2 linked regions of the Homo sapiens genome follow. The protein of the gene in region 1 interacts with the protein of each later gene in a biochemical or structural test. Each region holds a gene or a part of one and is shown on either strand. Other genes may lie near its edges.

Region 1 (3,500 bases):
CTGAGGGGCTGTCCCCAGGATGGCTGGGTGGGACCTTCATCCCTCCGAGGCTGAGAGGAGAAGAGCCCCGAGCTGCCAGGAGGGCCAGACTCACGCATGGTGTCCTGGGAGCCGTGTCACCCCAGGCACGAGCCCCACCTCCCATAGGGCTGCAACCCCCTTGCTGCTGTGTGTCCATCTCCCTACAAAGGGCCTGGACCAGGCAGGCTGCAGACACCATGGAGTCCCTGGAGGCAGCGTGGTCCCCACACCCCCGTGGGCCAGGACTAGGCAGCCTCACCGTCACTCTCCCAGCAGAAGGGGCCCTCGACTCCTGGCTCCCTCAGAGCATAGCAGCCCTGCCTCCCTCCCAGAAAGGGAGCCAAAGGCCAGAGCAGAGGGGAGTGGAAGCCAGATCACCATCAGTATCATTTTTATTGCAAATCAGTTAACAAAAAAGATGAAAAAAATACATCATCTACAGTTCCTCATGTAGATCACTTTTAAAGTCTTTTTCTGTAAACTACACTCTATTTTATAAAACACAGTAAAAATCAACATCTTGGGACGCATCTGGTCATGCCCCCTGGGGATGGCACCACGCGGCCCCCGTAGAGCCGGGGGAGGCTGCCCTGAGGAGTGCAGGCGGCACGGCAGCGGAGCGTCCCCAGTGCATGGGCGGCTAAGGCTCCCCGAGCTGAGCCAAGTCTGACGTCCCTCACTGGCATGACACACAACAGACTCATTCATTAAGATTTTTTAAACAAAATCCACCTTTAAAAACATATTTACAGACATTTTTTCTGCCATAGGCTATACTTGGTATTGCAAAAATCTGCTCCTCCCAAACTAGGAGGGGTGGCCCAAGGGCAGCCCCCGCCTCCCTCCAGCCCCTGCCCGACCGCATGCCCCCTGCCAGGGCTGCGGGGACAGGACCAAAGGACGCAGCCCACGGCGTTGCACAGCTCAATGTGCCCGGCTCTGGCAAGTCTCCTACAAAACACGGGAGCCCACGGGGGGTCGGGTCCCGCGAGCTGGGGCCCAGGCTGTGTTGCTGGAGCATCTTCTTCGGAACCTGGGGGACACTGTGCAGGCTGAGGTGCTGGGGCCGCCACCGGGGTCAGCCCAGGCAGTGTCTTTCCCCAGAAAAGGGTAGGATGCCTCCGTGTGTGACCCAGGCAAGTGCCACAGTCCACACATCTCATGTTTGACATGCATGATGCCTACATTTCAAGAACGGGCAGGGGGCCGGGGTGGTTCTGGAGGGACCAAGAACTTGTATAACCAACGAACAACTACATAATACTGAACCTGAAACAAAGATTCATGATTGGTACCATGGGTGCACTCTTGGCATACACACTCCGAGAACACATTTTCACAAGCATGCTTGCAAGAAACCATCTAAAACACATGGCAACATCTAACCCATATGCTTTCACTTGTTTCCTATTTCAGATGCAAATTAATCCGCGTGCGGAAGGTGAGCCAGCTTTGCCTCCGTTTGCCTCTGGATGCAGCTTCTCCTAACAGGCAGGTGATGCTGGTGGAGCGGCCGGGCTGGCTTGGGGTTGGGTGGGCGTCGGGGAAAGGGCGCGGCCTGGACGCCCCAGGAGCTTTTTGGACTATGCTCGTTCAACTTCCCTTCTCCAACATCATTTCTTTTTGGATTTTGAAAAAAGGAATCAATAAATAAATGGCATTTATAAATCATGAATCTTTGTTTATATTTTATAAACACAGAAGAATCTTTTCATCCTACGTAGGAAAACCCTGGCTCTCAGAACTTGCTTGTTTTCTCAGAATAGATAAAAGTTTCTACCTGGGGCCAGATAAAACAGTACATATAAATAAAAAGGCAGTGTTTCTGTGTAAAATAAAAGTACATAAATAAATACTAAAAAAAATTAAAATCCTCGTTCTTATTTTGTATAAAAACATGTGTTTTAAAAAGGCTCCTCTGGTCGGCCCTGGCATCCACAGAGCGCACACAGACGCCCGAAGGCTTGGGAAAGGAAGCCGGGGTCTCGTGGGGCGCGCCGTTTACTTGAAGGCCTCCGGAATGCGGGCGATCTGGGACTGCATGCTGGTGGGAGGGCTGGAGACGCCCTCGGACCAGTCGGAGACGTTGGAATGCGGGGACGAGCTGGACCACTGGTCAGGGGACTCAGGGGACGGGGTGAGGAAGGGGTGCTCAGGCACCTGTAGCTGGTGGCTGGGGGTGTTGTCCACAGGCGAGGAGTAGCTGTGCTGCGAGGGGGGCGTCAGGAACTGGGCTGCGGTCACGGGTGGGACCAGCGAGGATGGCAGCGACGTGGGCAGGGCGGGGCTCTCCTGGGGCAGAATAGTGTGCACCGCCAGGCTGCTGGGGCCCAGTGGCTGCACGTCTGCCTGGCTCGGCTCTCCACTCAGGAAGCTCCGGCCCAGGTGGCCGCTGGCTGCTGAGCTCACGCCAAGGTGCGGCTGTGGTGGTGGTGGTGGCGGCTGCAGGCTTTGCTGCTGCTGGATGTTTGCTGGCTGCAGGTTCTGCTGCTGCATCTGTAAGTTTTGTGGCTGCACCTGCTGGGTCTGCACCAGGTGAGGCTGGGTGGCCAGCCGGGTGCTGGGCAGGCCCTGGTAGCTCATCATCTGGGACAGGGCGCTGGCAGCAAGGCTACTGTGCAGCGGGCCTACCATGCCATGCTGCAGGGAGGGGGCCTGTGTGCTCAGGGGGCCTGGTGCCACACTCCCCCGCAGAGGGTTGTATTGGTTCGGCACCATGCCGCTCTGCAGCCGGGACAGCCACTCGCATTGACCATTCAAACTGGTGGACCCGCCCACAGTGAAATTCAGGGCCCCTCCGCTGCTGGAGCCCAGGACGGTGCTGGTGCCAGAGGCCACAGGCAGGTGGGAGAGACGAGGTGGGCCAGTCTCAAAGGCCAGCCGGCCGCCCCCACCCAGCGCCGCCATCTCGGGCTTGGCCGCCACGTTCAGGTGCCCGATGCCCAGGTGGGTGTCGGGCATCCCAGGCAGGTGGTTGAGGGGCACGGACGGAGACTGCTGGAACGGGGAGGGCAGCAGTGGCGGCGAGGCCACGTCTGACAGGTAGCCATGGGGTGACTCCAGGGAGTCCACGGGCGAGAGCATGCCGGAGCTGTCCAGCAGGCAGCCCTTGCCGTCCTGGGACTTCTTCCTCCGTGCCTTGAGGTCCTTGGCCTCCTTGCTTCCACAGGCCAGGCCTTTGCTGCTGGGCTTGCGGACCTTCTTGCCCTGCACGCCGGGCTTGAGGCTGCCCAGGTAGCCGTTGGGCGAGCAGAGCGGGGGCGACAGGGTGGGCGTGCCCCCCAGCGGGGCTCCGTGCAGCTGCGGGCTGCGCACCAGGTTGTACTCGTCCAGCAGCCTCACGATGTCGTGATGCATGCGCTCCTGTGCGATGTCGCGCGGCAGGCGGTCCATATGATCCGTGATGTCCCGGTTGGCAAAGTGGTCCAGCAGCACCTTGGCGGTCTCGTAGCTGCCCTCCCGGGCGGCCAGAAACAGGG
Region 2 (3,500 bases), on another chromosome or scaffold:
ATTACAGGCGTCAGCCACTGCGCCTGGCAAACCTCTCAGTTTTTAACACTGGCAACTGAGACTAGTGTGTGTGTGCATCATGTGGGCCAAACCCAATCATAGCAGAGCCCTGGGGGAGCGGGTCCCTGAGTGCTGCCCGTGACTGTTCCCGCTGGTCCCGCCCGGCCGCCTGGCCTCACCCCTCTGTGTGCACAGCCCCACTGCAGGCCCCACCATGGCGCCGTTCCTGCGCATCGCCTTCAACTCCTATGAGCTGGGCTCCCTGCAGGCCGAGGACGAGGCGAACCAGCCCTTCTGTGCCGTGAAGATGAAGGAGGCGCTCAGCACAGGTAGGCCTGGAGGCTGGACCCTGGAGAGGGGCTGGGAATCTGGGCCCAGCTGGAAGGACTGGAGGGGGCCTGGCCTTGTTCCCTGCAACCTCTGAAGGATTCTGCTCTTCCTCATCCTTGACTCCCTGCCCCACTCAGCTATGAAGGCAGAGGCCACTGAGTCGCTATAGGGCTGCAAACACTGGCCAAATTGAGCCCTCCTTGGAAGGCTTGGAGTTTCTGGTTCCTCCTCCCTGGTTGTTTTACCCAGCAATTTTTACATGTCCATTTGTGCCAGGGCCTGTGCGGGGCACTGAGGATACTGTCATGCTCCAGGACTAACCTGGCCCTGCCCTCATGGGGTTCATAGTCAGGTGGGGAAACCAGGCACGTCAAAAAGCAGTGAGTCCTGCAATAGGGAAGCCCAGAGAAGGCACCCTCTGAACCTGAGGTCAGGGAGGACTTCCTGGAGGAAGCACATACCTCACATCATTCCCTCTTGCTTTTGCCCTGGCCTGGTGAACCCCTATTTGTCCCTCAGGTCTCGGCTGAACTGTTCCTTCCTCTAGGAAATCTTCCCTGACCCTTAGGCTTGACCCTGTAGCACTACCAGCCTTGCCCTCTTCAGTCTCATCACAACTGTGACTTAACAGTTACTTGAGGAAGGAGTTGGTGCATTCGCCACCCGGGCCTGGGGATCCAGGAGGACAGGCCCTGGATGTAGCTTTTCTTTCAGCTGTGTTCTGCGCCTCGAATATTATGGCTGGCATGCAGGAGCTGTCAGCCCATGTTCCCTGCATGAATGCATAAGGGCAGGCGACATTTAAATGGAGCTGGAGCAAGAGGATCAGAGGAAGAGGGAACAGCAGGAACAAAGGCCTGGAGGGAGGACCTAGCAGGGTGCCCAAGGTAGTTCTGTGCTCTAGAGGACACTGGGGAACCACAGCAGGCCCTCAAGGCAGGAGAGTCGGGCAGATTCTGCCAGGGGAAGGCCGTGGAGGTCTACGAGGGAGGGACAGAGGGGCCATGGCCCAACCTTCTCTGCCTGGCCTTGTTGCAGAGCGTGGGAAAACACTGGTGCAGAAGAAGCCGACCATGTATCCTGAGTGGAAGTCGACGTTCGATGCCCACATCTATGAGGGGCGCGTCATCCAGATTGTGCTAATGCGGGCAGCAGAGGAGCCAGTGTCTGAGGTGACCGTGGGTGTGTCGGTGCTGGCCGAGCGCTGCAAGAAGAACAATGGCAAGGCTGAGTTCTGGGTAAGGGGCGCACGAGCCGTGCCGTGTGTGTGTGTGTGTGTGTCTGTGTGTGTGTGCATGCGTGCATGTGTGTGCGTGCACACACGCGGGCTTGGTCAGTGAGCACAGCTGAAGAGCACCGGGCCCTGTGCTGGCCACCAGTCCAGCCCTGTGGCCAACATGTCCTGGGTGTGAATCCTGGCTCTGCAATTCACCAGATTCCCAGCCTCTCTGAGCTTCTGCTTCCGCATCTGTTAAGGGAAGGCGCTACTAAATGTGCCTACCTCAGGGTCAGTTGTTCAAATGAAAGGAGCAGCTGGATGTACAGGGCTTATTGCAGAACCTGACACATAGCAGGTGCTAAAGACGGCCAACTTCCTTATTGTGACTACTTTTTCCTTTTTAATTTTGGAAAGGCAGGATATGCACATAGTAAAACATTTTTAACTGCATGAAAGGGTGTGTCCCTGCCCCAACACCAGGCCACCAGGCCTCCTTCCCAGAGGCACCCATTATCCCAGTTCTTTTTGGAATCTTCGCATATATTCTAGGCCTTGGCAGCCATTGAGGGGGCAACATAGTGATCTTTAACAGCAAGGAGGTGGGAGAAGGGGAGGCTGACGGTCTCATCTACTTACCTGCTGAAATGGAGACTCTGCACAAGCATGTGGCCACTTGGCCATGTGCAGCTGTGTGTTCTGGGTGGCCACAGGATGCCAGTGCTGGCAGAAGTCCCCTGGGGTTACATGTGGGATGTAACCAAGATGTCTCCACCAGGAAAGGCCCTGTGACCATTGGAGGCTCTGATCAGCCTCCTGCGAGGGGTGAGGGGGCTGGGATGGGAGAGAGGTTAACACAGGGCTGTACTGACCCTTGGCCAGTCAGGCAGGGACACAGAGGGGCCTCTGGCTGTGCTGTCTCCGCTCCCCCAAGGGAGGATATCAGTCACCAGGTCTAGGTCTTGGGGGAGGTGAGGGGATAGAGGCTCAGGTCCCACCCTCGAGACTGTCCAATCTGCATGAGGAGCCCTCGGCACAGAGGGAGGAGCAGCGTGTGTGCACGAGGATGAGTGTGTCTGTGTGTCTGTCTCTCTCCGCATGTGCACACGGGTAGGGGCCTCCATTCTAAGATCCTTGCTAAGGGAGCTGCAGCGGGTAGGGGTGGGGAATTTCCCTTCCCGCTCTATTCCCCAGCTATGTGTCTGGGCTGGGTGTGGGCTGGACCCTTTCACTTCCCTAAATGTAATAATACCCCTGGGTACAGGGTGGGGGTGGGGCTCAGGAGTGGGGCTCAGGCGGGGCCCTGCCCACACTGGGCAGACAAGTGTCTGGCTAGGCCTTGGGGGGCTGCCTTGGCCTTGGGGGACCAGCCATGGGGGTGGGTTCTGAGTTTGGCCTGGCCCAGGCTGCCCTCACTGACCTTGTTCTCCCCTGGCCTCTGGCCCCCAACAGCTGGACCTGCAGCCTCAGGCCAAGGTGTTGATGTCTGTTCAGTATTTCCTGGAGGACGTGGGTAAGAACTCCCTGGGGGTGGAGGGCTCCCTTGCCGGGTTCAGAGGCAGAGCCAGCACTGAGGTGTAGGGAAGCTGCTCCCTTCGGCAGAGCTGTCCAGGACCACCCTGGGAGGGACTGTAGGGGTGCCACCCCTTCCAGATACCAGGGCTGACTTCCCTACTCCATGGTCACCAGATTGCAAACAGTCTATGCGCAGTGAGGACGAGGCCAAGTTCCCAACGATGAACCGCCGCGGAGCCATCAAACAGGCCAAAATCCACTACATCAAGAACCATGAGTTTATCGCCACCTTCTTTGGGCAACCCACCTTCTGTTCTGTGTGCAAAGACTTTGTCTGGTGAGAACCGGCCATGCCCACTGGTGGTGGTGCAGGGTAGTGGGGGCCGATCCCGGTCCCCGCTCACTCACTTTGCCTGGGTTTTGCCTTTCAGGGGCCTCA

The links. Proteins that work in one complex are often made in the same cells at the same time.
Region 2: of the proteins of NOTCH1 (region 1) and PRKCD, one has a biochemical effect on the other in vitro, tested with the Homo sapiens proteins (one study listed by BioGRID).

What each region holds. Positions count from the first base shown.
Region 1 is NC_000009.12:136,494,049-136,497,548, forward strand, and holds the end of NOTCH1 (neurogenic locus notch homolog protein 1 preproprotein), read right to left. Parts: coding exon 2,023-3,500; 3' UTR 385-2,022; downstream 1-384. UniProt on the Homo sapiens protein: Functions as a receptor for membrane-bound ligands Jagged-1 (JAG1), Jagged-2 (JAG2) and Delta-1 (DLL1) to regulate cell-fate determination.
Region 2 is NC_000003.12:53,178,209-53,181,708, forward strand, and holds part of PRKCD (protein kinase C delta type), read left to right. Parts: intron 1-195; coding exon of another isoform or gene 196-214; coding exon 215-329; intron 330-1,368; coding exon 1,369-1,568; intron 1,569-2,998; coding exon 2,999-3,059; intron 3,060-3,235; coding exon 3,236-3,398; intron 3,399-3,492; coding exon 3,493-3,500.